Linked DNA regions of Homo sapiens: regions 2 and 3 are each linked to region 1. Evidence: fine-mapped expression QTL. A gene starts in region 1. Each other region holds a variant in brackets. All regions are shown on one strand. Distances are from middle to middle. Region 1 holds the start of IER5 (immediate early response 5). Region 2 overlaps MR1 (major histocompatibility complex, class I-related). Region 3 has its middle 35 kb from the start of IER5.

Region 1 (10,835 bases):
GAGAAGAATAAAATATTTAGGGCAAGAGATCAGAAATCCTTTGGTTATTCAGTGAACTGAACTAACTCTACTTTTTTTTAAAAAAGTACAAGGAAATAAATGTCCATCAAATGCCATATCACAGTGGGATTAGCCTGTCGACCCCATCACACAGGATCTGAGGCTAGGTTATCATGCCTAGTAAGTTGCAGTAAGAGAGACTCAGACTAACCCAGTGATAAGATGGAACAGTTTTATAATTATTAATTTCATTCCCAATATTTCTGACATCTTTATTCTGAGAAGCTTTCCACCAAAGTTGTCAAATGACCCATTTCCTCTCACTTCACACTCCCAAATCCAATCAGTGATGAGTAGAAGGAATGGAAAGGTTATTTGGTGCCATAAAGAAAACCCAGTCACCTTGGAGGAGCAATTCAGGCTTTCCATCATTAGTTCCCATCGCCAAGAACAAATGATGGTTTCTAAAAGGGAAGACAGGGTTAAAACAACATGGTTGAGAAGTACATACTAGGCCGGGGGCAGTGGCTCACGCCTGTAATCCCAGCACTTTGGGAGGCCAAGGCAGGTGGATCACCGGAGGTCAGGAGTTTGAGACCAGCCTGGTCAACATGGTGAAACCCCGTCTCTACTAAAAATACAAAAGTTAGCCAGACGTGGTGGTGCATGCCTGTAATCCCAGCACTTTGGGAGGCTGAAGCAGGACAATCGCTTGAACTAGGGAGGCAGAGGTTACAGTGAGCTGAGATCACACCACTGCACTCTAGCCTGGGTGACAGAGCAAGACTCTGTCTCAAAAAAAAAAATACATTACTAACATTTATCCCTTTATTCTCTTTTTTCCCACCACCACACCTGGCTAATTTTTATATTTTTAGTAGAGACAGGGTTTCACCATGTTGGCCAGGCTGGTCTTGAACTCCTGACCTCAGGTGATCCACCTGCCTCGGCCTCCCAAAGTGCTGGGATTACAGGTGTGAGCCACCGCGCCCAGACTTTATTCCCTATTAATGTGATCTTCTTGGAGTACTTGTTGGAAAGCACTTTAAACATCTGGCTTTTACGCAGCAGTCAGAAGGTTTTTTTACACCCCAGAGCTAAGGTTAATTTGATCAAGAGACTAGGTCCCTCCCAGAGTGGTGAAGAAGTGGTTAGGTACTAAAACCATGGCATCGTTTCTAGTCACACTGCATCTGATTTGGTTGTGTGATAGCCCTAGGTTGGCATTGGGAAGGCTCTTGTCCAGAACCTATCAATAAGCATGTTTTAAACATTCCATGCGCAATAATTCAAGCAAAAATAACTTTATGGGCTACTTTTTTCTTTACTCATCCACAGAAAGCATTTGTATGTCAACAAGAACTTTGCTCCTTGCCTGTTTTCACTTCAGCTTACTCCTCCCTGAAAATAGAGTTGTTTGATACAATTGGAAAAATCATCCGGTTGGTGTGAGACATTCACAGCAACAAAACTATGTTGGTAGAACAAAGCTTCCTGACTGCCAAGTGTCCAGAGAAAAAGAGGAATAAAAGAACCCAGCATTCACACATAGGACCACTTAAAAATAGATTCTCCATTCTCCTCTTTTCTTACAAATACACACAAATCTTTGACCACAGTGTATCTGATTTATACACAGAATTAACTTCTACATTAACAATAATTAACAGTTGCGTGCTTATTACATATGAGGTACTCTTCTAAGAGCATTAACTCATTAATTTTCACAACCCTATGAGACAGATCCAATTATCCCAATTTTACATTTGAAAAACCTGAGGCACAGAGAGATGAAGTAACTTGTCCAAGGACCCACAGCTAGGTGGCAGAGCCAAGATAGAAAAACCCAAGCAGGCCAGGTTGTGGTGGCTCATGCCTGTAATCCCAGCACTTTGGGAGGCTGAGGCAGGAGGATTGCTTGAGGCCAGGAGTTCAAGACGAACCTGGTCAACATAGCTCACTTTATATTTACTTTTTATAATTAAATAAATAAATAAATAAAGGAAGACACCAAGCAGCCTGGCTCCAGGGCCCATGCTCTAACTACTATACTATACTGCTTCTGCAACAAAAAAGAGAATGATCTTTTCTAATTCCTACAAAGCTTTATCCTCCTATCAAGTATGCCAATTTACATTCTTTAAGCAGACACATGGACCCAGGTTCATCTTAATGTAAAACCAAGGATCAACTTTAGTCTCATCCAAAACACATCAGCTCTCTTAAACACACCAAACGTTACCCCCTTTAAAACATAAAATACACTGAGATCGCTGTTCAAGCATCATACTTTCTAACAACAGGAAATGTTTGCAGAATTAAGGCCCTGGACACCTTCTTCAGTTTAAGCAGTCAGCACTTGATGGATCTTTTGTAGCTGTAACAGAATTTAAGTAGCTACTTTCTGAAAGAAAAAGTCAGTTTAACAAGACCCTAATTTGAGAATGTTTAATTCTATAAATACATTATTATGGCGACAGAGCATAAAGTACAAAGTTCCCTATGCTTAAGGAACCACTAATAGATTTGCCGAAATATCAAGGCACGAGGCACTGGCCTATTCAGCTAAAACAGAAGTTCGTATAATTGGGAGTTAAGGCCAAGACACCATTCATATGCCTCTTATGCTCGAAGGCTATGACCTTTAAACCTTTGTCTTTCTTCAATCTCTCCCATCTTTTAAATACCCTATATACTCGTAAGTTGTTAGAAACCAGTACCATCTTTTAAAGTCCTGGCAACTGTACCGTATTTTAATAAACACCATTCCCTAATTGATTTGCTTCTGAAATAGATTACTGAATACCTTTCAAACATTGAACATGAAGAGACAAAAAACTCTCTTAATGGCAGTGATTTTAGTAAAATCGATGGATGTTTTGGCTATCATCACCTAAGTGTCTACCATGACCAAACACTGATGTCACCATTTAAGTAACAAAACAAATCAGGAAGTTTTGCTAAATGAGAACTAAATTTGCCTAGCCCTCCTTCCTTATCTGGTTTGATGCAAACAATTTCCCTCTCAGCAATATATTTACTTTCTAGATGTAAGAGAAAAACTGAAAATTTACATCCTGACATCCACTGTGATGCAGAGGTGGACCTGACAATTTGGACAAGTCAGTCTCTTTCATCTTCCTATGTCAGTTCGAATGGGCTTTTAAGGTAAACTACTATCTAAACTTTTTTTTTTTCAATTACAAAGCTAAAAGATGACCCGTATTAATAGCTTAACAGGAAACAAAGTTTTGCTGAAAAACATTTTTGTGGATAAGCGGGGCTTCAAAAGTTGGTTAAATTACTTAGTATTAGACACCCACATATTGGGTGACAAATTGGTCTAAACTGACCTTAGAAAAGGCAGTTGTAGTGGCAGGTTTCTAGAACCTGACAGGTCGCCGATATTAGTATCTAATAGCAGTCCTCTGATCTAGGAGGAAAAATTAAACGTGTCTCTCTTGATACTTAGTGGAGTCAGTAAACAATGTCCTCAGTCTGCGAATGACTGATACTAAGAACCACACCTTCAATTTTCTAGCTCAGGCCCTGGTTTCCCTCCTCCCACTTCCCTCCCAACCCAGGCAGGTTATTACAGACAAGCAGGCAGTTACGTTGCTTCAAAATATTTAATACGTGTTAGACACGTAGAAGTTACATTTTTATACAAAAATCAATACAACGAAGGAGAAAATACTGTACAAAAACCTTATCAGCTCCCCCAACCTTTATACAACAAAGACTGGAGTCACCATATCTACAAAACCATAAGGTCTTTCCACTTCGGGCTTCTGTCTGTAAACTCTCATTAAACACTTTTTAAAAGCACTGTGTAGTACTTCTGACCTAGAGCTTTTAAAAATATATCTTTTCTCTATAAACTCCATTATTTCCAAGCTTGAACTCTTCTGTGAAGTTCGTCAAGCTTTTTCTCCCCTGCGGGGAAGCAAAGGACCGTTAATACGCCCCTTTCCTAGAGTAATCACAGGATATAAACGTTTCTTCATTGGGAGAGAAAGGTGGGGAGGGACAGAAGGAATCCAAGTCTGTGCTCTTGGCTAAATCCCTCTCGTCTTAGGAAATCCTGTGCGGAAACGCCACTCCTGGCCCTGAAGCGGGTCTAGCTTTCCGGTGAGGGGTAGGTGTAAAGTCCCTCCCTCCCCGGAGAACGAATGGGGAACTCCCCGGCCCAAACCTTTTAGCCGCTTCCTTCTCCACGCAGCCGGCAGAGGAAAGTCCCTGTCTGCCCCCAATCTCTTAAACCCTGGGGAAGGAGTGGTGCATTCCAGAAGAGCAAAATAGTCTTAATGCCACAAGACAAACTTACATACACAGACATACACAAACACAAAAGTTAACGATCGTCCTCTTCCAATGAGCCTCAAGCTCCCAGGTCTCCAGATAAGCCAGATGCGCCCGGGGGCAGTTTGCGATGCCCAGAGGCAACCAGTCTGCCCAACGCGCTCAGCGCCCGCGGTCTCTGGGCGTCCTCGCAGCCGGGAAGGGCCTGGCCCTCACTTCGGGGACGCCCGCTGCTCCACCTCCTCCCCGCAGGGGGGCCAAGGGCTCAGAAGGCCACGATGGCTGTGCTCCAGGGGTTCATGTCTCTCAGCACCGGCTTATCGCAGCAGATCTGCCCGGGCTCGGCGGCTTCCGGACCGCTCTCCTCTCCCTCCTCTTCCTCTCTGCCGCCCCCGGGGCTTTTCCGTAGGAGTCCCGAGAAACTGGAACCGAAGATGCTGATGAGGTTAGCCACGTTCCCGGTCTCCATCTCCTCCGCGTCGTCGTCCTCTCCTCCACTCGGCGGCTGCTCTAAGTTCCGGCGGGGCTTCTTGAGCGGGGTCGAGCCGGGCGCCGGGCAGCCCGCTGGGCCGCCGCCCACCCCCGCCGCGCAGCGCTTCCTGGGGCACACCGCGGGCGGCGCGGGGGGCTCGTCCTCCGCTGGTTGCGGCGCGCAGCAGCAGGCAGCGCGGGGGGTCGCGGCCGGTGTACCCGGCGGGTCCTCCCCGCCTAGGGGGCAGCCGCAGGGGCGGCGCGCGGCACGAGATACCTCGGGGAAGACGCCCCAGCCTCCGGCGGTACCCTCGGCTTCTCTGGCCGCCGCCTGGCGCGGCCCCTCCACGCGGCTCCAGGCAGCTTCCGTCGCGTCCGCCTCTCCGCCCTGAAAAACGTCCCCGACTCCAGTCACCGTGGCCACCGGCACCTCGTCCCCTACCCGCGGCGCGTCTGAGACGGAGGAGCGCTCCGGCTGCGGCTCGGTCTCCGGCCAAGAGGCACGAGCGGCGGGCGGGGGCGGCTCTCCCCAGCCGGCGGGTGGCCCGGCCGCCGGCTCCCCGGGCTGCTGCTGCGGTGGCGGCGCCGGGGTCCCAGCGGGACCGGCCAGGTAGAGGCCGGGGCACGGGTCGCTCAGGTAGACTTGGCGGGCGCTGCGCAGCACCAGCGAGACCAGGAGGTTCTTATGCAGCTTGATGCCGCCGCGCTGGACCCGCGAGTTGTAGATCTTGCCCAGAGAGATGCTGACGATGCGATGAGCCTCCAGCTTGAACTCCATCTGCTTCCCCTGCACAGGGCCGTCGGCGCCGGGGTGACACGTTTGGAAATTGGGAGGGAACGGGAGGCGCAAACAAGTCCGCCCCCTGGGCACACCCTCGATCACCTAAGACTCCGAAGAGAAACGACTCTGGTGACGCGCGCGCTGCTCTACTAACCTCTCCAAACAAGACAACTTCCCCGTTTCGGGTCCGGTCGCTAAACAGGGCAGCCTGGCTGCCCCGCGCCTTATATAGGCTTCTCGACCGCCAATCACGAAGGGCCGCCAACCGTTCCGGGGCTGGCCGGCGCGCCCTCGTGCGCCGCGCACGGCCAATCGGAGCCCGAGGAGGGGCGCCAGGGCCCGTTCGAACGTTAGTCCCGCGGAGCAGGCTCTTAAAGGGGGCGACGGCTTGCGGCCGCAGACCAGGCCCGTGGGGAGTGAATGTTCGGGACGGTGCTCGAGAGCGCTACTGTTTGGAGTTACAGATTCTGGCTTGTGCGATGGCTTGCCGGAACCAAAGCGAACAAAATATTCGAACTTTCTTCCGAACACGGTGGTGGACTCTGTTCTGCCATAAAGTCCTGATCCTTCCCTGATCGACTCCGCCCTCACCAGCCACACCACCGTTTCCAGGCCGGCCACACCTGTAAGCGACCCCCCTCAACCCTGGCAAAAATAGAGATGGTGGCCATACGCGGCGGAGGACACCCCTGGATAACAAATAGTATTACTGCAAAGTATTTGGCAATCATTATTTTTGGATGAGCCGCTTTCCCCGCTAGAGTCACATACACTCTTAGCAGCTGTCAGTTCTAACCCCAAAGAAAAGGGGGATTCTAAAAGTTTTTGCCTAGGTTTTTGGCTTCTTTTCAAGGAATCGTGTCTAGATACAAAGTTATTGGTTGTCCTCTAAAGCTGGCATCTTTCACTTTGTTCTCTAGATTCTAGAACAAACCCAGTTATCAAATAAGTTAAATGGAAGATGTTACAGGTTCTCCACAATGATTTTTTTTTCCTTTTTTTTTTCCATTTCCATTTTTCCATTACAAGGACTGACCAGTCCACCCTTGGAAAAATCGAGCAAGTTCTGAAAATAAAAAGAAAGAAGTCCTGTGTTCCCATGATGATGTCATAATTTCATTTCGTGTCAAGGTAAAAATATAGTGCTAGGGAGTTCCAGAATTTTCTGGTCAGTCAACAACTTAGTCCATCTACTGGTCCTTATAAGTATATCAGGACACAATTACCACGGGGTTGCCCAGGGTCCTGGACTGGAAACATGGAGTCACTTCCAGTTAGTTCCACCGAAGCTCCACCACAGACCTGCCTGAGGACTCTGGGTAAATAACCTCAGGCCGCTTCAGTGTCTCCACTGCTGAAAAGGGGGAAGTCACATACACATCTGCGTTATTGTACAGACGATAAATGACAACTTCTCAGCCACAATCTGAATGAGAAAACTAAGCACTGCTTTCTTGGAGTCCATGTGGAACCCTGGGCCTGATCCTGCCCCGGGGTTGGTCAAGCAATGAATTTATTTAGGAAAAATACCAGTGAAGAGTGGGCTTGATCATGACCAATTCACAATCTCCAGAGGATGTGATGGCTCAATAGCATTACCTGTGCCCACAACTGATGGTAACTGAGACAGCAGGCTCTGAGACCCAGAGTTCCTCCCCTCTAGGAATTTTCAGCCCACGTAGAGGAAGATATAAAATAATGACACGAATAATTACAAAACCAAATAGCATATATTGAGTAATGACACAAGAATTTTTCTCTTCTCTTTTTCTTTGCAAGTTATTAGTCACTATAAAGCAATGGCTAAGAGCACAGGCTGAGGAGGCTGGCTTCCTAGGTTGGAATCCCAGCTTCACCTTTCACTTGCTGCATGGCCTCTGGAAAATTACTTCACTTCTCTGTGCTGCCGTCTTTTTTATTACAAAATAATCAGCCGGGTGTGGTGGCTCACGCCTGTAATCCTATCACTTTGGAAGGACAAGGTGGGCGGATCACTTGAGATCAGGAGTTCAAGACCAGCCTGGCTAATATGGTGAAACCCTGTCTCTACTAAAAAAAAAAATACAGTAATTAGCCTGGCATGGCGGCAGGTGCCTGTAATCCCAGCTACTCGGAAGGCTGAGGCAGGAGAATTGCTTGAACACAGGAGGCAGAGGTTGCAGTGAGCCGAGATCACACCATTGTACTCCAGCCTGGGCAACAGAGTGAGACTCTGTCTCAAAAAATACAATAAAATAAATATAAATATAATAATAATAATGCCTACCTCTTAGAGTTTTTGTGAGGGTAGAACAAGGTAGCACATGCAAAGCTCATAGAACAGCACCTGGCATATAATAAGCTATCAATGTAGGCTAGTTCTCAGAACACACTACCCCACATACTACCCTGGGGTGGGAGAAGAGGCTGGGAGAAGAAAGGAACATAGATGGGAGAAAGTTTCACCAAAGAAGTTGTATCTGAAGAGGGTGCTGAAAACCTCTGAGGTAGGATCCACAAGTTCCAAGCAGCAGGAGCAACAGAGTCCAGTGTAGGGAACATCTTACTTTGCAGTTGTGCTGGGCACATGCCCAAAAGCAAGTGGGAAAGGCTAGAAACAGAGGCCGAGGCTGCATGATAGTGGGTTGTGGGTGCCTTGATGAGGAGATAGGACCACAGGGACCTTACTAAAGGTTGTTCAGTAAGGGAAGCACAGAATAGATTCTAGAACAGTTGGTGCATAGAAGAGCACACATAAAGCTCTTGTGGAAATTTAGGCAAAGGGTTGTGAAGACCTGAACTAGGTGGAGGCAACAAGAATGAAGAAACTGGCAGGGCATGGTGGCTCATGCCTGTAATCCCAGCACTTTGGGAGGCCGAGGTGGGCGGATCACGAGGTTAGGAGTTCAAGACCAGCCCGGCCAGCATGGTGAAACCCCGTCTTTACTAAAAATACAAAAAATTAGCCGGGCATGGTGGCACGTGCCTGTAATCCCAGCTACTTGGGAGGCTGAGGCAGGGGAATTGCTGAAACTCAGCAGGCAGAGGTTACAATGAGCGGAGGTCGCACCACTGCACTCCAGCCTGGGTGACAGAGCAAGACTCCATCTCAAAAAAAAAAAAAAAAAAAAAAAATGAGGAAACTGAGAGACAAAAGAACTTTAGTGATGATCTGGGATGCTCCCACTCACCCATCCAGGCAGGTTATTGCTAGTGTCAAGCCTCTTGCCTTCCATGAAGGCTTTCTGACCTGCCTGAGCTGAGCTTTTCCATCATCCACCACTGTACTCAGCACACTCCTTCATCATTGCCCTCATCACTTTCTCCTGTCATGCCCAGTGTCCCTCCCAGACTATGCCCTCATTGAAGGCAGGAGCCCAGCTCATATTTGTAGCCAGGATATGGTGAAAATACATAACAGCTGGTGCAGTACAGGCACTAACCATCAGAACAGGGTCCTGGAGGCCCTTACAATGCTAGGGGTTTGGAGGGCTCCTGCAAGAGGGGCTGCATGGCCAGTAAGGGGGCTACTCACGGGCTTAGGGCAGAGGTTCTATCAACTGACATGGAAACATTTCAATACTTTAACAACTGGGTTGGCTGTACCAGTGCATACTGAGTGATTATACACTTGGATTAATGAATTCCTAATAATAATAATGTTTACCAAGCACTGTGCTAGACATAGTACATGCATTATTTAGCACATTTATAAAGTTCTGAAAGTAGATATCATTATCTTCATTTACATTTAACCTACTTAAAGCTCCAATGTGGGGTCATGGGGCTAGATTGCCTGGCTCCTCTTCTCACTGCTGTGTGACCTTTGGAAAGTCATCTCACCTCTAGGTGAAATGGGAAATCCATATTTTAGTTTGCTTATATAGGCAAGTTATTTAACCTCTTTGTGCCTCAGTCTCCTGTGAAAAATGGGAATAATAAAAATAACTAAATTGCTTAGTACAGTTCCTAGCACCATATAAACACTTATAATTCTTAGTTATTGTTGTTATTATGGTTATTGTTATCACACCAGTGCCTAGCACAGTTCTGAACACATAGTAGGTACACTCTTAGTACTTGTTGAATTTTTAATGCTTTTTCTGCTGTACCACATAATAGGTGCTTAATAAATGTCTGATGACTTGCAAGTTGCACATTATCACTGTCATTATCAGGATTTTCTTTGATCCTGAGCCAACGAAATGGAACCTTTAGAACTCATGTCTGGAGGGCCCGAGTTCGTATGATCAGGAAACTTCACCTCCACCTACCAAAAAAAGCAGGACGATAGCATATTCTTTTAAGATTTAGCAAGCAGGAACTGAGTTAGAATTTGCCATCATCCATCTCTGAGATTTTGTCAGTTGAAAAGAGAAGTTCGCAGCATGATCAGAAACAGTAGGGTTGTCAGAAGAACAGAGGAACCAACTGCTCTGGAAGAAAAGGCCAGAGCACCTCCCACAGGTCTGTTCTGTCTTTTCACCCCTCTGCTGGGCACAGGCAGATTAGTACAAGGAGCTTTGGGCTCTGCTGTTTCCACAGCTGTCTGAGGTCACTCAGGCGCTATCTGGGCTCAAGCCTGTGGATTCCTGTCGCACAGGCTGCTCTGCCCACTGCTGTTGACACTATTTACGCCCTTGTTTACACAACTAATTGAAGGCTAAGTATTATTATCAGATGATTAAAGATCTTAACTTGCCTTAAATTACGTCTAGTCTGTGCAAACCCACTACAGATTATGCACACGGTAGCTATGTGAGAAGTAACAATTAGTAAGAAGGGAGTTGGTGAAAGAAAAATAAGTTATTTGCACTGTCCCTACCTTTCAATATTAGGACATTTTCAATTGGTGGGGGGTGAGGGGCAGTGTCAAAATTGCTTATGCAATCAAATAGTCATTTGTATGACATACTAAATATTTAGGGGGAAAAGATCTATAAAAATACATTATTAGCACTTTATGTAAGTGATACTCCTTTTTTTCTTCTGAGAACAGACAAATCCACTTTTTTTTTTTTTTTTTTTTTTTTTGAGACAGAATCTCACTCTGTTGCCCAGGCTGGAGTGCAGTGGTGTGATCATGGCTCACTGAAACTTCCGCCTCTCAGTCTTCCAAGTAGCTGGGACAACAGGCGCATGCCACCACAATGGCTAATTTTTGTATTTTTAGTAGAGATGGGGTTTCACCATGTTTGCTACGCTGGTCTCAAACTCCTGACCTCAATTGATCCACCTGCCTCGGCCTTCCAAAGTGCTGGGATTACAGGTATGAGCCACTGCACCTGGCCCAAATCCACTT
Region 2 (10,835 bases), 27 kb after region 1:
ATTGCCGGGCGCGGTGGCTCACGCCTGTAATCCCAGCACTTTGGGAGGCCGAGATGGGTGGATCACAAGGTCAGGGGTTTGAGACCAGCCTGACCAACATGGCGAAACCCCGTCTCTACTAAAAATACAAAAATTAGCTGGGCGTGGTGGTGGGCACCTGTAATCCCAGCTACTCAGGAGGCTGAGGCGGGAGAATTGCTTGAACCCGGGAGGCGGAGGTTGCAGTGAACCGAGATTGCGCCACTGCACTCCAGCCTGGGCGACAGAGAGAGACTCTGTCTCAAAAAAAAAAAAAAAAAATGAGAAAATTGAACTATATGACACTCAATGGGCCCTCCAGCTCTGCAATTCTGTGTGCCCATAGATCTACCCTGGGTGAGTTGTTTTTGCAAGGTGAGGGAGCTTATACTTTTTCCTTTATGCACCAGCATCTCCATATACTAAGAATCAACAAGTAGCGAATGTTATCCACGGGTTTCACTGACATGTCCATGAAATGTGTGGTAACTTGCTTCATTTGGCCCTTTAGGCCTTGTTCAGCCTTTAAGTCACATCATCAAAGTCAGAGGAAAAAGATTCAAACTTTCCTAAATTTATCAGGGCCTTTATTAATTTTTGATTCATTGCACAGATGTTTGAACTCCTTTGTTCCCAAGATTAAGTACAGAACATAGTGTCGGCGAAAAGAATCGAACTCTGTAAAATATTTGAAGAGATTTATTCTGAGCCAAATGTGAGTGAGTGACCATGGCCCAGGAGGTCCTGAGAACATGTGCCCAAGGTGGTCAGGGAGCAGCTTGGTTTTATATATTTGAGGGGGGCATGAGACATCAATCGAATGCATTTAAAAAATACATTGGTTTGGTCCAGAAAGACTGAACAACTCAAAGTGGGGGCTTCCAGGCTATAGGTGAATTTAAACATTTTCTGGTTGACAATTGGTTGAGTTTGCCTAAAGACCTGGGATAGATAGAAAGGGAATGTTCAGGTTAAGATAAAGATTGTGGAGACCAAAGTTCTTTTTAAGTCTTACAGTGGCTTAAAGACAATAGGGGACAAATGTTTCCTATTCAGATCTTAGTTAATCTTTTTAGGATTGGGAGGGTCTGGAAGAAAAAGATCTAGCTATGTTAATAGAGATTCTTTACAGATGCAAATTTCCCCTGACAAAGAACAGCTTTGCAGGGCCAATTCAAAATAAGGCAAAGAAACATGTTTTGAGGTTTAAAATATATATATATTTAAATTAATATTAATATTTAAATTACATTAAAATTGATATATTTAAATTAATATTAAATATATTACATATCATATATATATATGTTTTTTTGAGATGGAGTCTCACTGTGTCACCCAGGCTGGCGTGCAGTGGCGTGCAGTGGCGTGATCTCGGCTCATTGCAACCTCTGCCTCCGCTGGGTTCAAGTGATTCTCCTGCCTCAGCCTCCCGAGTAGCTGGGATTACAGGTGACTGCCACTGCGCCCATCTAATTTTTGTGGGTTTTTTTTTTTTGAGACGGAGTCTTCCTCTGTAGCCCAGGCTGGAGTGCAGTGACGCGATCTCGGCTCACTGCAACCTCTGCCTCCTGGGTCCCGGTTCAAGCAATTCTCCTGCCTCAGCCTCCCAAGTAGCTGGGATTATAGGCACACACCACTATGCTCAGCTAATTTTTGTATTTTTAGTAGAGACAGGGTTTCACCATGTTGGCCAGGGTGGTCTTGAACTCCTGACCTTGTGATCCGCCTGCCTCGGCCTCCCAAAGTGCTGGGATTCAGGCGTGAGCCACCACGCCTGGCCAGGTTAAAATATTTTGATTTTCTTCTTTGTCTGGTAATGTTATGTCAGAGTCAAGTTGGAAAATAAATCATGATATGTAGGGTTAAATAAAACCCATCTGATGAGAATTTATGATTTATAGAGCATGACTCCCCAGTCCCCTTAGATAAGAATTTGGGCAAGATAAAAAAATCAGAGTTTAGTCCTCAATAGTTTTAAGTGGATGACACCTCACAGTTTTGGTCAGGCATTGATGGAGTGGGCCTACTGTGTGCAGATAGGACAGTGCCCTGTGTGCAGATAGGACAGTGCCCAGACTCAAGACAGTGTCTTGAGTCTGAATCATGCCTCTGCCACTTATTAACTATATAACCTTGTCAAGAAATACAATTTATCTGAACTTCAACAAAATAATAATAATAATACCTGCTGCCAACGTTGTTATGAGGAATAGAAGTAATATATGTGAAGTACCCAGTGCATAGTAAGCACCCATAAATGGTGGCTGCGATTATATGGGACATGGGGAGCAGTCCCTGGAGAGCACGTAGAGGAAGACACATCCCAGATGCCATTTCTTTGCAATATGCTTGCACACACACATCTCCTTTAATCCCCACTTTGACACTGGAAGACAGGTATTGACTAGCCCCGGGTTTTATAAAAATGAGGCTCAGAGAAGTTAAACAACTTAAGATCACCCTGATACTAAGTGAAGGACACAGAATTCACATTGTGCCCTTAAGGGGTTTATAGTCCAGCCAGGGAGATAAGCCGAGCAGAAACAGATAAATACCAACACAGAATAGCTAAGTGTCAGTTGAGTGGCAGAGCTGAAAAGCACTTAGGCGTTTAGTAAGGGAATTATTTCTCTGAGGATAGGCTATCAGGAAGACAAAAGGAAACTAGAGGATTAGAAGTTCCTCTGTCTCACTGAACATCTCTGAGTTCCTTGCTGTCGCCATCGCCACTGCCTATGGGTCCTCTTAGCCCAGCCCAGCGGCTGCAGGGAAGGAGGCAGTGCTGAGCCCTTCATCCTCCCCATGTCCTTTGTTTCATGGCATATTTATGTGCAGGCCCTCCCATCTCACTTGAAAGTTTTATTCAACCTGTGTCTTCAGTATTACTATGAAAGCTCACTGTCAGAGTTGTATTTCTTTCTTTCTTTTCTTTTTTTTTTTTTTTTTTTTTTTTTTTTGAGACAGAGTTTCGCTCTTGTCGCCCAGGCTGGAGTGCAATGGTGCAATCTTGGCTCACTGCAACCTCTGCCTCCCAGGTTCAAGTGATTCTCCTGCCTCACCCTCCCAAGTAGCTGGGATTATAGGCACCAGCAACCACACCCAGCTAATTTTTTTGTATTTTTAGTAGAGACGGGGTTTCACCATGTTGCCCAGGCTGGTCTCGAACTCCTGACCTCAAGTGATCTGCCCGCCTTGGCCTCCCAAAGTGCTGGGATTACAGGTGTAAGCTACCGTGCCCCCAGCCAGAGTTGTATTTCTTCTGTTAGCAGAAAACCCAGGGACTGTTTTATAGAAATGCATTCTAGATTACAATCTCTAAAATTATTTTCTGTGATGTGAGCTTGATTTTTCTATAAGCATATGTCTGGGCCATTTTTGTACTTGCTAATTTTCAGAACATCATTGTGCTGTGTTGCCTACAGAGTCTGGCTTGTAGGAGCAGCAGTTCATTTTGTCAATATGCATATGTACTGAGTGCCTACTATGTGCCAGGCACTGAAGTGTCAGGCCTTATGGCGCATATATTTCATGAATGGTTGATTAACTAATGAAGGCCATAAGAATTTGATTTAAATATCAGTATTTGTGGCAGATTATTAATAAGAAACTGGGGTAAAAAAAACTCTGTGGCTTGAATGAAAATATGGTGTATACCATGCCACACAGAAAAAACGAATAATTCCTTGTGGCTGGGGGCAGTCTCTAAAAATGTCATCATTAGGCCCAGAAACATGTCATCTTGTAGACTAATTTCAAGTCTGTGAAGCTGCACTAGTTTACAGATCTTTGAAATTTGATCTCAATTTCAGTTGCAAAGACCTAAATTGGATTAGAACAGCTTGCCTGTCTTCTTCAGGGATCCTCAGGGACCAATGACCATTCAGTCTTTTAACAGTAAGGTGAAGGGCTGCCCATGTGCTCGGCCTTGGTGGGTTACATCTGGTTTGGCAACTTCCTGTTGTGTGTAACACAGGGACTGTGCATTCGTAGCTGTTTCGTGAGTAATATGCAGAGTGCATGTGTTGGGTATTTTAAAGTACGTGAGAGGGTTGTGTTTCAGCAGCTGATGGGATGCCAAATGTTTGACTTTTTATTATTCCAGCCCTTCAGATTTCCCCAGAATTGTCACCTTCTAGAGCGTGTGTCTTGCCAGTGTGTTCCAGGAATTCTCTATTTATGCCACTGTGATGTTGCTCAGAAAACAACAGAGCTTTCGGTTAGTTCAAGTAAACTTAGAATCTGCGCTGATGCCTCAGAAAGGAAGAAAGGCCAGGACGGCCTCGGCTTGGGTGGCACTCTTATTTCTCCCTTGGTTTCACTTCCTTATTTTCGTGGCTTCCCATTTCATCCTGTAGCCTCCTCTCAGAAGCTGTTTCCCCCCTTCCTACTCCCTTCCCACCCCCGGGTTGTTTCCCCGGTTGTTCCCACACTCTAGCCCATTTGTGTCCTCAGAGGTCTGGCCGCTGCCACTGCACCTGCCTCAGACCCAGTGTCACCTCGCCAGGGCTTCAGCCAGCCTGACCTTCCAGCTGCCACCCAGCAGCTCAGCTTAGGGACTCAGAACCTTCTGGCCCAGACCTTCATACCCAACTCCCGCCCAGGGGCAAATGCA[G/A]AAGCCTCTGCTGGTGCAGCCAACACGGAGTGGGGGCAAGGCGGAGAGGAAAAGCAACAGCTCAGGGTGTGGTAAGAGTGCTCAGGGTGCTTCCCAGCTCAGGGCATTGGTAAGAGTGGGTGGAATTTGCATGTTAAGAACTTTCATTAACCAAATACCCAAATGGTGACAGAAAAGCAAATTCAGACTAGTTACATTTCTGGAAGGTTTCAGATATTTGGGCCCCCAAGATGGCTGAGAACTCATTTCTCAGCACCTCTTCTCATAGCCTTCGAGAAAAACAGTACCTCCCATAAGAACCTCCGAATTCTATCTTTGTCTTTAATATGTATGTGTTGGGTGGGGTGGGGGTATTGATGGAATGTTTCAGATCACTAATCTCACAGACAATGCAATGACAAGATAAAGTTTATTAGATGGAGAATGTTAATACAGCTGAAACCTTTGAAGAATTCAGACCAGTCCTCAAACCATTCATCCTGAGTACCTGGAATGTTATATGATCTTGAGTGGGATATTTCCCCTCTATGACTTCAGCTGTAAGATGACACTGTTCTTTTGTACCAGTACATGAAGACTAGCTAATTAAAATACTATACTAGTTCATTCAAAAAGTATTTACTGAGTTGCTACTACGTACAAGGCATCATGCAAACAGACTGTGCAGTATTACATAAAATTTTTAAAATAGATTTCCATAAATAAACACCATGATAGGATTATGTAACATCTTCCAGGGAATTTTAACCGTTTGGATGTACTACACAGTGGTTCTGGTTCTACCAGTCTAAATGAATTGACTTGTTTTTTTTTCCACCATCACTCCTCCCTTTCAATTCAATTCATTCATTCTGGTGTGCAGCCCATTTCTGTCTATTTTCTAATGATATGACCAGAGCCACCATGTAGGCTTGTGCCCTGCACAAGGATAGATACCCCACTGGGGAACAAACGGGACCAAAATCTACTCTGTGTTCTGCTGGCCAAGCCGGGTGACCTGGCCTGGGCTGGCGTCCTCCCAGAAGAAGGGTTCATTTTTCCAGTTTGCACACATGTGCTATTTGTGGGTTAGCTGAGGCCCTGCTTATGTCTTCAGTTGGTTCACAAACCAGAAACAGAACAAATGGCCATCATTTGATTACAAATGTAATCAAACTAGATTTACAACCAAGGCTTGCTGAGTGGCATTATGGGTTTTATCCTGTTGCATGGCAAGCCGCTCATGCACGGGCTGTGCTCAGTGTCCTTTTTCCTCAGCCATGCCAGCCATGGGGAAGCAGGAGGGGAGCTTGTTGGAGAAGGTGGCCTCAATGAGAGCCTTGGTGCATTCCCCTGAAGCCACAGTTTGGGGCTTCTCCCTCAGCAGGGGTCTCCACAGTCTGAGTGTTTTCAGAAATCTTATATCCAGGGGACCCCAAATCTTATGTCCAGGCCCCAGGGTCTGAACTCATATTTAAGTACTGAAAGGCATCAGCATCTCCCCTCTGGTTGAACTTGACCTTCTTACTGAGAACCAGCCAGGCAGGCATCAGAAGCCTCAGGCTCCAGAGGAGAAGCTGGTGGGCAAATAGGTCAGGAGCAACTGCTTTCACCATCAGGGATGAAAGTTGAAGACCAAGAACACTTCCTTGTCCTGTGGTGCAGGGGTTGGGATGGAGGGGTGAGTCTTATAAATGGAAGAGAACTAAGTGTTGTGATTTAAAGGAAGAACATTTGCCTCCTGCCCCCAAATGCTCCCAAACTCTCCAAAATTCCACAGATTCCTTTGGCTTAACTCCTTTCACAGAGGTAAGCTAAGGTAGTCAGTCTCACTGTAGTTGCGGTGAATTCATTTAATGATCTTGGTTTCCTAACTGCTAGATAATCCAGTGGAGCCAAAAAATTTTGGTGGATTGAGGGAACCTACAGAGGTTGGGTAGAGATGTGTTAGGAGTTGAATTGTTTCCTCCAAAAAATTCATGTTGAAGTTATAACCCCCAGTACCTCAGAATGTGGCCTTCTTTGGAAATAGGGTTGTTGCAGATGTAATTTGGGAAGGTGAGGTCATCCTGCAGTAGTAGAGTGGGTCCCTAATCCAGTATGACTGATGGCCTCATGAAAAAAGGAAATTTGGACACAAAGCCATGCATGCAGGGAGAACACCAAATGAAGACTAGAGTTACGCAGCCAGAAGGCAAGGAACAACCAGAAGATAGGAGGGAAGCCTGGAACAGATCCTTTCCCAGTCCCTTTAGAGGCAGCATGTTTCTGCCAACACTTCATTTTGAACTTCTGGCCTCCAGAACTGTGAAACAATAAATTTCTGTTGTTCCAAGCCACCCAGTTTTTGTGGTACTTTTAAACGACTACCCTTGGAAACCAGTACAAGGTGGAACGGGGAGACGATGGAGAACATGACATTGTGACATGTTGCATCTTTCCCAAAATGGCCACAATGATATCTCCCAACTACATGCTCTTCTTACAATGTAACTCTGACAATCTTCCTATTGAGTGTTGGGTTCTATACACCCTCTTTTTGAACCTGAGCAGGATTTTATGACTTCTTCACCAATGAGAGTATCACAAGAATGACATTTTGTGACTTCCAAGATTAGATTATATAAATGCTATGCACTTTGACTGTGATCTCTTGGGATACTCACTCTGAGGGAAGCTAGCTGCCATGTAAGCAGTGACTGCCCTGAGGCCACCATGTTGTGAGGAAGCCCAACCCACACAGAGAGATTACATGGAGAGTTCCTGAGACTACATGGAGGAGATGTAGCTGATGCCTGGCCACCACCCCTGGCTGCCCCATTTCTGTTCCAGCCACCACTTGCCTCCAACTCCATGAGAAGCCAGAACTGCTTACCCAAGCCATATCCAAATTCCTGACCCATAGAAACTATGAAAGAAAATAAAATGGGTATTGTTTTAAACCAATAGGTTTTGGGTTTTGTTACACAGTCTGTGGGGTTTGGGGCAACCAGAAGCTAGAAGGACAATGGAGAAAGGGAGGCCAGAGTGAAAAGGAGATGCAGAGATGTTACAGAGACATACAATGCTCAAAGATGGCAATTTCCAAAGAAAGAGAGGTGAAGGCAGCTCAGGCAGTGGAATCATCAACCTCTAAAAAGCACAATGTACTGAATGTCCTGAAGCTATTGGGGAAAAAAAAAAGATGAAAAGGGCAATGCAGTTAAGTGGGAAACACCTGGGCTGGGAGATGCCTGTGCTTCTTCCTAGCTCTGCTGCCCACAGCACATGGCTATGGGCAAAGCCCCCTGTCCTCCTTGGAGAACATTCTGTGAACTAATACACTGTGTGTGAGAAAATAGCAAACTCCAGAGAGCAGGTGCTAACAAGCAAGAATGTGTCCCCTTGCACCAATTCTGGGGTCATCAAGCACTCTACAGATTGTGATTTAGTTGTTCTTATGTAGATTTTCCTGCTGGAAGGTGTACTGACCAGCTGAGACAGATATCTGACCCACTTAGCAATTGTGTTTCTCACAGTAAATTAATACATTGGCACTCCACTTTATATATCCATCTGATCACTTTGTGGGGACACTAGACCTGCATATGTGAGGACAAAGACCCCAGACAGTGGTTTTCAAAATAAGGTGTGACTGCTCTGTGTGACTCTGGCAGAAAATGATCAGCTGGCCTCCCTAGTGGACAATCTGTTCCTCATAGCTACAAGTGCAAAAACATCTTCTCTCAGGCCAAAAAAAGAAGAGGAGAAACCAAGTCATTCCTCAGAAATAAGGAAAGGATCACAACTTGGAAATCATGGGAGTAAGAGGAGAGAGGAAAGGAGGACTGGCCCCTGATGGGAGAGCTCAGAAACTCTCGATGGAGTCTTGTTGGATTTTTCACCCTGCTCTTTAAACTGCTTTCTCTCCCTTAAATGTACCACATCAAAAACATCTGCCATTTAAATTTACCACATCTTGGTCTATATGCACATCAAAAACAAACAAACAAAAAAAACAAAAACAGGTAATAAATACAGTGGAGTTAAAAAAAAAAAAAAGAACAGAGTTGAACAGGTTTCTCATCTAGTGTTCTTGATCCAAAATATTCAGTAAAGAAAATTCAAAGCCAAAACATAGCTGTGGCAATAGCACAGTTATTTGTTTTTAATGTTTAGATCATGGTGTCAAATATTTCATAGGTTATGATTACTGAGCATCTGTACTCAACAACCATGAAGTAATGAAGCAATAACAAGGCTAAAACAATTAAGAAGTAATATAATCTTCAACCATCTATAGTAAAATGAAGGTTGCAGAATTTTAGGTATTACTTACTTATTTTATTTTTATTTTTTTGAGATGGAGTTTCACTCTTGTTGCCCAGGCTAGAGTGCGATGGCGCGATCTCGGCTCACCACAACCTCTGCCTCCCGGGTTCAAGCGGTTCTTCTGCCTCAGACTCCCGAGTAGCTGGGATTATAGGCATGCGCCACCATCCCCGGCTAATTTTGTATGTTTGGTAGAGACAGGGTTTCTCCATGTTGGTCAGGCTGGTCTCGAACTCCCGACCTCAGGTGATCTGCCCACCTCGGCCTCCCAAAATGCTGGGATTACAGGCATGAGCCACCGTGCCCGGCAGTATTTTTTTTTTAATCATCTCTTTATATTATGATTCTTTTAGTATTATAAAATCCCCCAGGAAGAAACATAAATGCTACAAGTGCATAACAGAATGTTTTGTCATCACATCCTTGTCCTTGCCTCCTCTTCATCCATTTGGACATATTATGTGTTAGGTGTAGGGCAAGGCCTTGGAAACACAGAGGCTTTTTATCTGTGTCTTTGATGAGAGTATCCTGCAGTTGCAGAATCAAAAGGCATTTACATAGATACATTATCACCTGTGTCTATGTAAATATGTACCTTTTCACTTTAAATGCCCACCCAAAAATATATTACATCCTAACTATTCTGATTGTAAGAAGAAACCATTCCAGAAATAAACTTGCCTACATTCTCTTCACAGTGCAACACTGCTTAAAAGTGGCACGGAAATTGCCCATGGCAACCCTAAAAACAAAATAAACACAACTGTGCTTCTATGCAACTCAACAGGCACCGGAAAAGAGAGATGTACAGTGGTAGCTTCATATATGGAATTACATGGGACAGTGGAGCAAGGAGGAAGCCTGGCAGGTGAGCTCTTAGAGGCCTGGCACACTGAGGGTATCTTTCTTTTTTTTTTTGGAGACAGAGTCTTGCTCCGTTGCCCAGGCTGGAGTGCAGTGGTGTGATCTCGGCTCACTGCCACCTCTGCCTTATAGATTCAAGTGATTCTCCTGCCTTAGCCTCCCAAGTAGCTGGGACTATAGGCACATGCCACCATGCCCAGCTAATTATTTGTATTTTAGTAGAGACAGGGTTTCACCGTGTTGCCCAGGCTGGTCTTGAACTCCTGAGCTCAGGGAATCCGCCTGCCTCAGCCTCCCAAAGTGCTAGGATTACAGGCGTGAGCCACTGTGCCCGGGCTGAAGGTACCTTTATCTGAGGCTGTAATGATTAAAGCCAAAGGTCAAATGTCACAGTCAAGGTCAAGGGAGAGCAGAGGTCAAACCTGAGGTGCAGGACAAAAGCCACTTGTCAAAGTTCAGGTCACTGAAGTAAGCATTAGGGCTCAGGTGCAGAGTCAAACGGGGTCAGAGAAGTAGGACCGAGGAATGTGTGACTGGCAGCCCCAGGGCAAGTAGCTCCACATGGCAGGGCAGTAGGTGAGGCCTCAGGGGTTGGGGATAGTAAGGAACATTAAGGGGATGTTCATTCTCACCATGGGCTTTTATTGATTCCCAGTGCATATGTATGAAGACAACCTATGTAGGAAGGCAAGTCATGCCCAGCTACCATGAGCCAGCACAGGAAAGGCAGAAATGAGAATTGAGCCCTCTCCTGACACCAAATATACTGTTATTATTATTATTATTATTATTATTATTATTATTATTATTTTGAGATAGAGTCTCACTCTGTCGCCAGGCTGGAGTGCAGTGGCGTGATCTCGGCTCACTGCAATCTCTGCCTCCCGGGTTCAAGCAATTCCCCTGTCTCAGCCTCCCAAGTAGCTGGGACTACAGGCACGCAACACCATGCCCAGCTAATTTTTTGTATTTTAGTAGAGACAGGGTTTCACCATATTGGCCAGGATGGTCTTAATCTCCTGACCTCGTGATCCGCCCGCCTTGGCTG
Region 3 (10,835 bases), 35 kb before region 1:
AGTAGGAGACGTTTTCTTCCCACCCCTAGGGAGTCCGCAGTTGGTGCCTGCCATGACTGGGAACCAACCTGCATGGCCACTGGGCAGGGCCAGGCTGGGCCCCAGGCTGCTCTGCGGAAATTCACGCTGCAGGTCTCAGCCGCCCCTCCCTTTGACCCTCAGCCTGACCAGGGAAGGGCATCCGACCCACACACTCTCACTTCCTCTTTCCAAGAACAGAAATAAGGCACCAACTTAACACATTGTACTTGGAGAGAGTCTTGCACCCCTTTCAACTCCTGGACATCGTTCTTTCCTGAGTGCTTTTCTTCCCTCTTCTGCAGCACTCCCTTTCCTCTCCACACAGCATTCTGGTTCTGGCTTGCTCTCTCTGCTCTCTTCTCCCTTTGAGCTCTCGTACCCAGGATCCTAGAGCGTCCGTTCCTTCTGGGCTTTCTTTCTCCCCCCCATCTCTCATGTCTCCCTCCTCCTTTCCTCCTAAGTCCCAAGCCTAGAGTCCCCTCCACCTCTTTCCCAGGCCCTGCTCCCCTCTGTCTCAAACTCCTCCTTCTCCTCAATTCAGAAGAAAGCTGGCCAGAGAGATCTCCTGTCTCCTCCCCCTTCACTTCCCCTCCTCTCCCCGCAGGCACACAAAAGGGGACAGAGGCACCAGATGGCCCGGTGCTAAAAGAGGGGCTCAGGGAGGCTGCCGCCCACAGAGGCCCCTGCTGGGCCTTCAAGCTAGTCCAAGCTGCTGCCGGGCCCAGCCGCCCAGCTGGCAGAGGAGCAGGGCAGAGGACCAGCATCCCCAGTACGAGGCCAGCTCCCCCTGCCCGGCCTGCCCTGGGGCCAGCCTGGAGAGGGAGCACGCTTGCCAGCTGAAAAGCAGAGGGTGTCACCATGTGTCCAAGCCTCAAGCGCCAGGGGCAAGGGTCCGATGGCCCGTGGGGACACTGGGCTTCCTCAGGAAGAAGGAGAGGAGTGGCTGGCAGTCTGCTCTTTCTATGGAACAGGCTGTGCCAAGGAGGGGGCCTCAGCAATGGGTGAGCAGACCACAGGGGAGCCAACAATCCCCCAGTCCCCTCACAAAAAAGAAGATTTAATGACGCATTGGTTAATGTTAACAGCTACCATTCATTCAGTGGTTAGCTGGGCCAGGCATTATGCTAAGTCATTTCCTATAACATCCCTAATCCTTCAAGAGTTCTGCAGGGTAAACATTTTGATCCCTATTGTACAGACAAGAAAACTGAGGCTAAGAGAGGTTAAATGACTTCCCCAGGCATCATAGCTGGAAAGTCAGTTAACACAGTTTATTCCAGGGTTCAAGCGATCCTCCCACCTCAGCCCCACAAGTGATTAGGTCTATAGGCACGCACCACCCTGCCCATAGTGAGACAGGATCTTACTGTGTTGCCCAGGCTGAGCTCAAATGACCCCCCCAGCCCCACCACAACCACCACCTTGGCCTCTCAAAATGCTGGGATTACAGATATGAGTCACGGTGCCCGGCCTAGTTAATACAGTTTAAAGTTTCTTTTCCAGTTAAGATTCTGTAAGTCCTGCTAAGGTGGTGTTGCAAAAGCAGGCACCTAACAATGTCCCCACTAAGGCCTTCAATAAAGCCACAGGCAGGCCAGGCGCGGTGGCTCATGCCTGTAATCCCAGCACTTTGGGTGGCCAAGGCAGGCAAATCACATAAGTTCAGGAGTTTGAGACCAGCCTGGCCAACATGGTAAAACCCCGTCTCTACTAAAAATACAAAAAAATTAGCTGAGTGTGGTGGCACATGCCTGTAATCCCAGCTACGCAGGAGGCTAAGGAAGGAGAATTGCTTGATCCTGGGAGGCAGAGGTTGCAGTGAGCCAAGATTCCACCACTGCACTCCAGCCTAGGCGACAGAACAAGACTCCATCTCAAAAAAAAAAAAAAAAAAAAAAAAGCCACAGGCAGAAGCTTCCAATTCAGTTCTCCATTGCACATGCCTGTGTTGCTTTTTTAAACATCAAGCTCCCAAGTCCCCTCCTCTGGAGGTTCTGATGTACCCCAGCCTCTCCGGAGACACTTGTGCAGGAACAAGAGCTGTGAAGCAGGGCAGACTCGAGTTCCCAGTACCAGTCACGTGACATGGGAAAAGCTACTTCCAACCCTTGGAGCCTCAGTTTCCTACTATTAAAAAAAAAAATGGAGATAATAATGTTTGCTTTACCCATGTGTCATGAGGAGTCTAGGCTGCTTGGCACAGTGCCAGGTGCTCCATAGGTGCTCTGCTGACGTCAGCTCCCCTTTCCTGCCCTTCAGAAACCTGATGCTGCAGCATCCACACTTCAGAGAGCTAAAAAGAAAGGGGCATAGCCCATGGATACTACTCCAGTTAAGCTGACCTTTGGTTCTGGCCTTAATCTAAGTCCGTGCACCCTGCCCCAGGGTCAGGCAGCTCCCACAGGGCTGCAGGACAACAACAAGCCGGCGTAGGCTGGGGGATTTCCAGGGGCGGGACCTCTGCTTTCAGAACTTCCACGGAAAGGCCTCAAAACTGACCAGCTCCACCTGCAAAAGGTCACTATCCAGGCTGGCTGAGAGTCTCTGGAAACCTATCAGTCCATCAAACTGTTCCCCAGTCTTCCTTCCATCATCTGCCAGAGCCCGTATTTCCAGAGCCACCTCTACCAGCTGCCCCTCTGGATGCAACAGGCCCGCCCCCAGGTTCAAGCCCTCCTGCCTGGCCCAGCCGCCATGAGCCCCTCAGGCCATTCTCTCCTGCCAGCCCTAGGCATTTCCCAACCCTCACCTAAAACCCATGTCCCAATTTAAAAGGCAATGAGTGGCTTCCAAATACACCCTTACCTGTTTACTCAGAGTTGACTTTGAGTTACCTGGAAGATGCGCCCACTCCCAATAGCCTGGGTGACAATCTTTCCTTTCCACCTTTTTAACAGAGGACAAGTGAGTTCCAGGAAATGCCTGGAGTGCCTAGCTACCTCTCTGGAGTACACTCAAACCCACACTCATTCTCGCTAAGCAACTTGGCGGAGGCCCTGTTTCACAGGCACCATGCTGGGCACATCTGCCTTCCTCAGCTCCCCTTCTTGAGAAACTGGGAGGTAGGTGCCGGTATCTTTATTTTATACATGAGGGGACTGAAGCATTAGGCCATCTGTATAAGCTCCCACATCTGATGAGTGGTGAACTCAGGATTTAATCCCAGGACTTCTGGGTCCCAGACAAGAGCATTTTCTACTCCACTGTGTCTGCCTCTAAAATCTACCTCAGGCCAGGCGTGGTGGCTCATGCCTGTAATCCCAGCACTTTGGGAAGCCAAGGCAGGTGGATTACCAGCGATCAGGAGTTCAAGACCAGCCTGACCAACATGGCAAAACCCTGTCTTTACTAAAAATACAAAAATTAGGCCGCACAGTGGCTCACGCCTGTAATCCCAGCACTTTGGGAGGCCAAGGCAGGCGGATCACAAGGTCATGAGATCGAGACCATCCTGGCTAACATGGTGAAACCCCATCTTTACTAAAAAAAAAAAAAAATACAAAAAATTAGCCGGGCATGGTGGCAGGTGCCTGTAGTCCCAGCTACTCAGGAGGCTGAGGCAGGAGAATGGCATGAACCTAGGAGGCGGAGCTTGCAGTGAGCAGAGATCGCGCCACTGCACTCCAGCCTGGGCGACAGAGTGAGACTCCGTCTCAAAAAAAAAAAAAATACAAAAATTAGCCAGTGTGGTGGCGCCGCCTGTAATCCCAGCTACTCAGGAGGCTGAGAAAGGAGAATGGCTTGAACCCAGGAGGCAGAGGTTGCAGTGAGCAGAGATCGCGCCACTGTACTCCAGCTTGAGCAATAGAGTGAGACTCCATCTCAAAAAAATAAAATAAAATAAATCTACCTCAAATCTATTTCTCACCCTCTTTGTTGCCCCCATCCAAGGGGGCACCTTCCAAGCCACCACAGCCGAGGCCTGGGTGACTATAATGGCCTCCCAACTGGTCTCCCTGTTCTCACTCTTGGTCACAACCATCCATTTTCCACAACAGCCAGGATGGTCCTTCTCATGAAGTGATCATGTTGCTCCCCTGCTGCACAAAAAATAAAATCAAACTCCTCCCCATGGCATATAAGGCCTGTGTGATCTGTCCCTTCCCCCTCCCCGCTGTCCCTGATACCCCTTCCATTCTTGAAGTCTTTTCCTACTCTGGGATCTTGGCACTTGATGTTTCTTCTCCTTTCCTCTTGTTGCTCCGTATATTACTTTATTTTATTTTCTTCATAGCATTTATAACTATCTGAACCTTTTAAATTTATTTACATCTTGGGTGTTTGTCTGTCTCCATTGACCAATGTAAGCTTCACAAGACAATTTTATCATGCTTTCCATGGCACCCTTGTGCCTGGAACAGCACCTGGCCAATAGTAAGTGCTCAATAATTATCCACTGGATGAATGAATGAGGAGGTCTCCCTAAGGAGACCTCAGAGATGATGGGGCTGAAAGACATCAGAGGAGAAGAAAGCTGGGGCAGTTTCACCTGCAATATGTTCAACAGAAATGGCCCCACTGAGCCTCACAGTCAGCCATGCGACAGTGCACCTC[G/A]TGTCTGGGACAGAAGAAAGATGGTCAATGTGTGCCCCAAAAGAGGGAACTATTTGGAAACTGGGAGGGTAAAGAAATAATAAAAATGTTGGGTTTTGTAGTGGTGGCTGTTATTTTTTAAGCCCACTCAAGGGGGGTTTTCTGCAGTGGCTCAACATAAGCAAACACTAGAACTAAAAAAAAAAAAAAAAAAAAGAGGAATTAGAAAACTGGAAAGAACTAAATGCTGCAGCTAAAATGGAATAGGTTCCCCAGAGTCTGATCTCATGTGTGTGGGCTAACATGACTCTTAGGGAGGCCTCCTCCAGAAGAAAACAAAGCAGAAGGAGGAGGAGGAGGGAGGAAGAGGAAGGAGGAGGAGGAAGAGGAACGAGGAAGGAGGAGGAGGAACAACGAAGGAGGAGGGGGAGGAAGAGGAGGAGGAGGAGAAGGGGAGGAAGAGATGGGGGAGGAAGGAAAGGGGAAGCAGGGAAGGGGAGGAGGAGAAACAGCAGCCACCAACAAGGCAGCCCAGTGACCATAACATGGGAGTAGTCCATTGACAGAAGTCCTTCACACTGATGGTCACATGGGGAAGTCTCTGTCCATGTTCCTAGCATGCACTCTGACTTCAGAGAGACACTAGTATAAATAGGGTGAGAAGATGTAGGGTGGAAAGCAATCTAGCACCCATGTGAAAACTCAAGTCCCTTCTTCCCACCTCCTGCAGCCTGGTCTGAGCCCCTCCTGTTCTGAAAGCTGTGCTTGGCTGGGCTCTCCCTGCTGCAGACTGTCTGAGGATACTCAGTGCCTCAGAAGACATGGGCCACATCTCTCTGAAGCACCGATTCTACTTGATTATTTGGTGGAAGGTATTTTTATTAAACAGAGATTTTGTTTTGCCATAGATGCAAAACGTACATGACTTTTTTTTTTTTTTTTTTTTTTTTTTTTTGAGACAGGGCCTCACTCTGTGGCCCAGGCTGGAGTGCAGTGGCACCATCACAGCTCACTGCAGCCTCAACTTCTGGGCTCAGGTGATCCTCCACCTCAGCCTCCCAAGTAGCTGGGATTACAGGCATGCACCATCACGCCCAAATTTTTATATTTTTTTGTAGAGATGGGGTTTTGCCATGTTGCCCAGGCTGGTCTCGAATTCCTGGGCTCAAGCGATCCTCCTGCCTCAGCCTCCCAAAGTGCTGGGAATTACAGGTGTGAGCCACTGTGCCCGGTCACAATGAACGTGAGTTTTTAAGATAAGATGTGAGTTTTTCATACATTTTACACCTGTAGTACTTACTACAAATTGCCCAAAGGGCATTTACTCTCTCCTGTTTTTCAGCAGTATTAGGAAAAGCAGTATAGTGGTTAGGTGCATGGGCTCTGGGACTGCACTGCCTGAGTTTGAATCCAGGCTCTGCTTGTATGACCTTGGACAAGTTACTCCACCATTCTGTGCCTCAGTGTCTGCATCTGTAAAGTTGGGATGATAGTAATAGCACCATCCTCATAGAACTAGGTGAGTTCATGCATGTAAGGTGCTTGTTCAGAACAGTGCCTGACTCACGGTGAGCACTAAGTGTCAGTTATTTTATTACTCTGGTAGACAGGCTGAGAAGCTGTCAGAGCCCACAACAGCCAGTCCCTTGCCACCTTGAGCTACCTTCTCTCCCCAAAAAGAGTACTGGTAACAAGGGGGGTGGGGACAATGGTCTGGCTCTTGGGTGTGACTGATGAGGTACAGGCACTAACTAGCAGCTGTCCCAGACACACGGCGCCCCCTCCAGAGGGGTGGACATGAAGGAACCATGGGGCTCACTTCAGGCCTCTGCCACAAGCTGCTTCCCTTACCTGGAAGGCACTTCCCAGCTGTTCCCCATCACTGTCTTCCCCTTTCCCCCACCAACTCCAACCCATCCTCAGGACCAGAGCTGGGACTAAGGACACAAAGTGTAAGGGGGCACTCACTCCCAGGGTCATGCAAGTGCTCAGGCCTCGGCTCAGCTCTCATCTTCTCCAGGATGCCTTCCCTGAGTCCCATCCATCCAAGTCTTCCTGGTGTCCCTCACTGCACTCACCTCCAGTCAAATGCCATTGTAACCCATTGCCTTGTCAGGCTGCCCCCTGTGCATGAGCTCCTGGGGGTCAGGTGCATTTCCTCATTCTTTTTCTACCTATAGAGCCTCACACTTGGCAAGCACAGAGAAGGCACCCGATAAGTGTTTGGTGAATAAGTGTTGAATGGATCATTCTCTAGGGGATCCCAAAGCCAGCAAAAGTAAAATAATATGTTCATCTCCCAGGTAAGAGACTAGAAAAGGGGCCAAGGAAGGGAGAAGAGAAGGAGGGGAGCATGGAGAGAGCGCTAGGAATTGGATGATGGTAGAAATTCTCCTGACCTTAGGAAAGACACCCAAGAACAAGGGAGAGCACTCCCTTCTCCTCCTTCCTGAGAAGCATGGCATTCTGGAATGCACCCAATCATTCCTTCATTCATGCAATAGTCCTGTGCTGGGCACCAGCTGGCACCAAGCACACTGCTGAGCAAGGAGACAGGGAGGGGAGGGCCCTGCTCCAGGCTCCTGGGAAAACCCGGGGCCCAGCTCTGTTTCTGCTTCTCTCCATGCTGAAATGGGCCACGGGGGCATAGGCCCAATGTGCCTGGTCGTGGAGTCACAATGCTGTCAGCCTTCAGGCCACTTTGTGACAATCCTACCGTAGGAATTGTGCCTCTGGAGAGACACAGTAAGGTGTGATGAAAACGCACCACAAGACCAGGCACAGTAGCTCCTGTCTGTAATCCCAGCACTTTGGGAGGCCAAGGTGAGAGGATCATTTGAGGCCAGGAGTTCAAGACCAGCCTGGCCAACATGGTGAAACCCTGTCTCTACTAAAAATACAAATATTAGCTGGGCATGGTAGCACATGCCTGAGGTCCCAGCTACTCAGGAGGCTGAGGCAGGAAAATCGCTTGAACCCAGGAAGCAGAGGTTGCAGTGAACCGAGATCATACCACCGCACTCCAGCCTGGGAAACAGAGCGAAATTCTGTCTCAAAAAGAAAAAAGAAAACACATCGAGTTGTGGGGACTTGGGCATCACTGATCCTCTTGTCCTGGTCCCCTATCCCTTGTCTACTCCCTTGTCACAGTCCTGATAGGCCTCCAGATAGCTAAGAAAAGAATCCCCACACTGGATAGCCTGCCTGTAAATAGGAGAGGCCAGAGGAGGCAGGGAAGGAGCAGATAATTCGCCTGGACTTGATCCCTAGGTGTGGCCCATAACCGCGGAGTGACTGTGGGTCTGCCATCTAGGCTTTCTGTGCCTCAGTCCTAGCATTGTGGGTTAAGTGACATAACACATGTAAAGGGCCGGCATAGAGTGTAGTAGGCTTCAACAAATGCTAACTCTCTTCCTTTGAATAATGAACTACACAAGATATACATAGTTTTCTAAAATTTATTTTATGTTGCAGTGTCTCCTCGACTTAAAACACTATTTTCTAAGGCTGTTCATTTGTCAAACAATGACTACAGTTGCCAAGCATCCAAAACTCCAATTCTGGTCAGCAGAGCCCCACGGTCTGTTCTGGGGACAGGTAGCAGAAGCGAGGGGCAATACCTCCACCTGGGGCATCTGGAAATGCTAACACAAAGGGGTGAAACTGGGGCTAGGTTGGAAGACACAAATAGAAGTTGGGGGGATGAGCAGAGATGGGTGAGAACAAGGGAGGCCAGAGAGAAAGAACAGCTTGAGCAAAGCATGTGGCAGACAAGAGGTGTGGCACACTCGGGAAACCACACACAGGTCACCTGCCTGGGGGACAGTAATGTGCAGGAAGATTGGATAGGAGATGTGGCACTGCAAACAATCAGGGTCCAGTCCAGAAGGGCCCTTCAACGAACATAATGGGTTTGCATTTATCTTGACAGAGAGGTACCTGCAGCAGCAATGTGGATGGGAGAGGGTGGGGAGGCTCCAGGCAGGGAGCCCAGGCTAGAGGCCATTCTGATAACCAGGCTGATACATGATTCAAGCCTGGATTAGGACAGTGGCCCAGGAGGGGAAAAGAGATGTTTAAGTGGTAAGAGAAACAGACCTAGAGAGTAGGAGCAAGAGAAAGGGAAGTATCTAGGAAAACATCCACATTCCAGGCAGCTGCACTGAGACTATTTACTGAGACAAGGGAACCCTGGAGGAGTCAAGAGCAGTGAACTTGGTTTTAGATAAAATGAATTTGAAATACTTAAAGGAGGCCGGGCGTGGTGGTTCACACCTGTAATCCCAGCACTTTGGAAGGCCGAGGCGGGTGGATCACCTGAGGCTCACCCCGTCTCCACAAAAATACACACACACAAAAATTAGCCGAGCATGATTGCGGGTACCTGTAATCCCAGCTACTCAGGAGGCTGAGGTGGGAGAATCGCTTGAACCCGGGAGGCAGAGATTGTAGGGAGCCAAGATCACGCCACTGCACCCCAGCCTGGGTGACAGAGCAAGACTCCATCTCAATAAATAAATAAATAAATAAATAAATAAATAAATACTTAAAGGACATCTAGGTGGTGTCCCATAGAACCTGCCAGCAGGATGAGTTCAAACCCAAATCTGGTGAGTATTCACTGTGTACTCTTAGGCCTCCACAGTTCTGTTTTCTTATCTGTAAAATGAGGCTGCTACCTACTTCATAGAATTATTATTTTTGAGCCAGAGTCTCACTCTGTCATCCAGGCTAGAGTGCAATGGCACAATCTCGGTTCACTGCAACCTCCGCCTCCCAGGTTCAAGCGATTCTTGTGCCTCTGCCTCCTGAGTAGCTGGAAGTGCAGTCATGTGCCACCACACCTGACTAATTTTTGTAATTTTGGTACAGATGGATGGGGTTTCACCACATTGGCCAAGCTGGTCTCGAACTCCTGACCTCAAGTGATCTGCCTGCCTCGCCCTCCCAAAGTGCTGGGATTACAGGAGTGAGCCACCTACTTCATAGAATTATTGAGAGAATGTGGGCTAAAGAAGATAGCTGTGGAAAAGCACCAAGCCTCTTAGCTGGCACACGGTGGGAACTCCATGAATATTGGTTGAATCTGAAGATGACTGTGATCATGGATATTTCTGTGTTAAAGTGCTGTCACCACGAGTGTGTGGGCAGCTTGGTTCTTTTCATCACACGCCGTTCCAGCTAGGTGGAGAGGACTGTGGTCAGGGTTGCTGGGTGGCCAGCTGCTCCTACTCTCTCGTTCTGTTTTTCTTACCACCCAAACATCTCTTTTCCCCTCCTGGGCCACTGTCCTAATCCAGGGAGTTCTTCATGTCCACCTCCTCAGCCCCCACCCCTGGGACAGGCCTTACCTCTTCCAGATCCCCTGCAGCCACCCTGCCCAACAGGATTCCAAAGACTAGAAGAACCTCCCCAGCCTGACTCAGGCAAACTGAATGCCCTGTCTCAAACAAGCAGGGGCCCTGAGGCAAGTCTTGCTCTGGGAAAACAAACAGGTTTTTATTACCTCCACCTTAAGACAAAGCCTCAACCTCTGGCTGCTGTGAGACACTCATTCCCAGGAAGAAAAATGACCTCTAATTGCAGTAGTACATGTGACACCTCCCTGGTAGACTGTGAGCTCCCTGAGGGCAGGAACTGGGTCCTACAGGTCCTGATTTTCCTCCTAGCCCCTAGCACCTGCCAATCTGAGTACATGGTCAAGGAAGGTTTGTTGGGTTTTCATGCCTGTGTGTTTGGTTTCTGCTTCTGAGCTAGAGTCTCTTGCCAGGTAAGCAGAGTAGATGCACTCCTCAAAACTCAATAGGAAAACGTCATGCTGGGTCATGGTGAACAGGATCCAGGACCAAAGTCCCTGCTGCTTCCTTCTCCTCCTTCCCAACTCCACACCTGCCCGAACTTATGACAAAGAGACCGAGTGTCTTGGGAGTAGATTCCCAAGTCATGCCTAAAACAATGCATTAGGTCCTTGAATAGATACGATTTGGGTTACTAACCTCCAAGTCACATCCCCTTCATCAATAAATCAAGGCAACTCCAAGAACTTTCTCCTCCCCTGTGGTCTCACACACTGGTCCATGGAGCTCTGGAGTGGAGCAGAAGACACTAGGGCCTGTTCCCTAACACACTCACGGCACTTTCCACTAAAAACAAGCCAGCTTGGCTGGGCACGGTGGCTCACGCCTGTAATCCCAGCACTTTGGGAGGCCAAGGTGGGCGGATCACCTGAGGTCAGGAGTTCAAGACCAGCCTGACCAAGACGGTGAAACCCCGTCTCTACT

The links. PIP is the estimated chance that this variant, and not a neighbour inherited with it, causes the effect.
Region 2: its variant is fine-mapped to the expression of IER5 in whole blood (TOPMed, PIP 0.96).
Region 3: its variant is fine-mapped to the expression of IER5 in whole blood (TOPMed, PIP above 0.99).

The regions. Positions count from the first base shown.
Region 1 is chr1:181,083,619-181,094,453 of GRCh38, reverse strand. IER5 (immediate early response 5) reads right to left here and starts at 5,754. Exons shown (of 1, transcript NM_016545.5): 1 at 1,554-5,754. The coding sequence starts at 5,551. The coding sequence ends at 4,568. LOC124904465 (a long non-coding RNA gene) reads left to right here and starts at 5,953. Exons shown (of 2, transcript XR_007066762.1): 1 at 5,953-6,179; 2 at 6,584-6,657. RefSeq lists silencers at 3,947-4,241, 4,816-5,035, 5,236-5,395, 5,706-5,975 and an enhancer at 4,256-4,425.
Region 2 is chr1:181,056,127-181,066,961 of GRCh38, reverse strand. It overlaps MR1 (major histocompatibility complex, class I-related), which reads right to left. Exons shown (of 6, transcript NM_001385161.1): 6 at 5,024-10,835. Among named protein-coding and RNA genes, the nearest start is that of IER5, 27 kb to the left of the region's middle. RefSeq lists enhancers at 4,115-4,164, 4,805-4,934. The variant G/A (reference allele first, on the strand shown) is at 4,634.
Region 3 is chr1:181,118,675-181,129,509 of GRCh38, reverse strand. No RefSeq gene overlaps it. Among named protein-coding and RNA genes, the nearest start is that of IER5, 35 kb to the right of the region's middle. RefSeq lists an enhancer at 559-658. The variant G/A (reference allele first, on the strand shown) is at 4,576.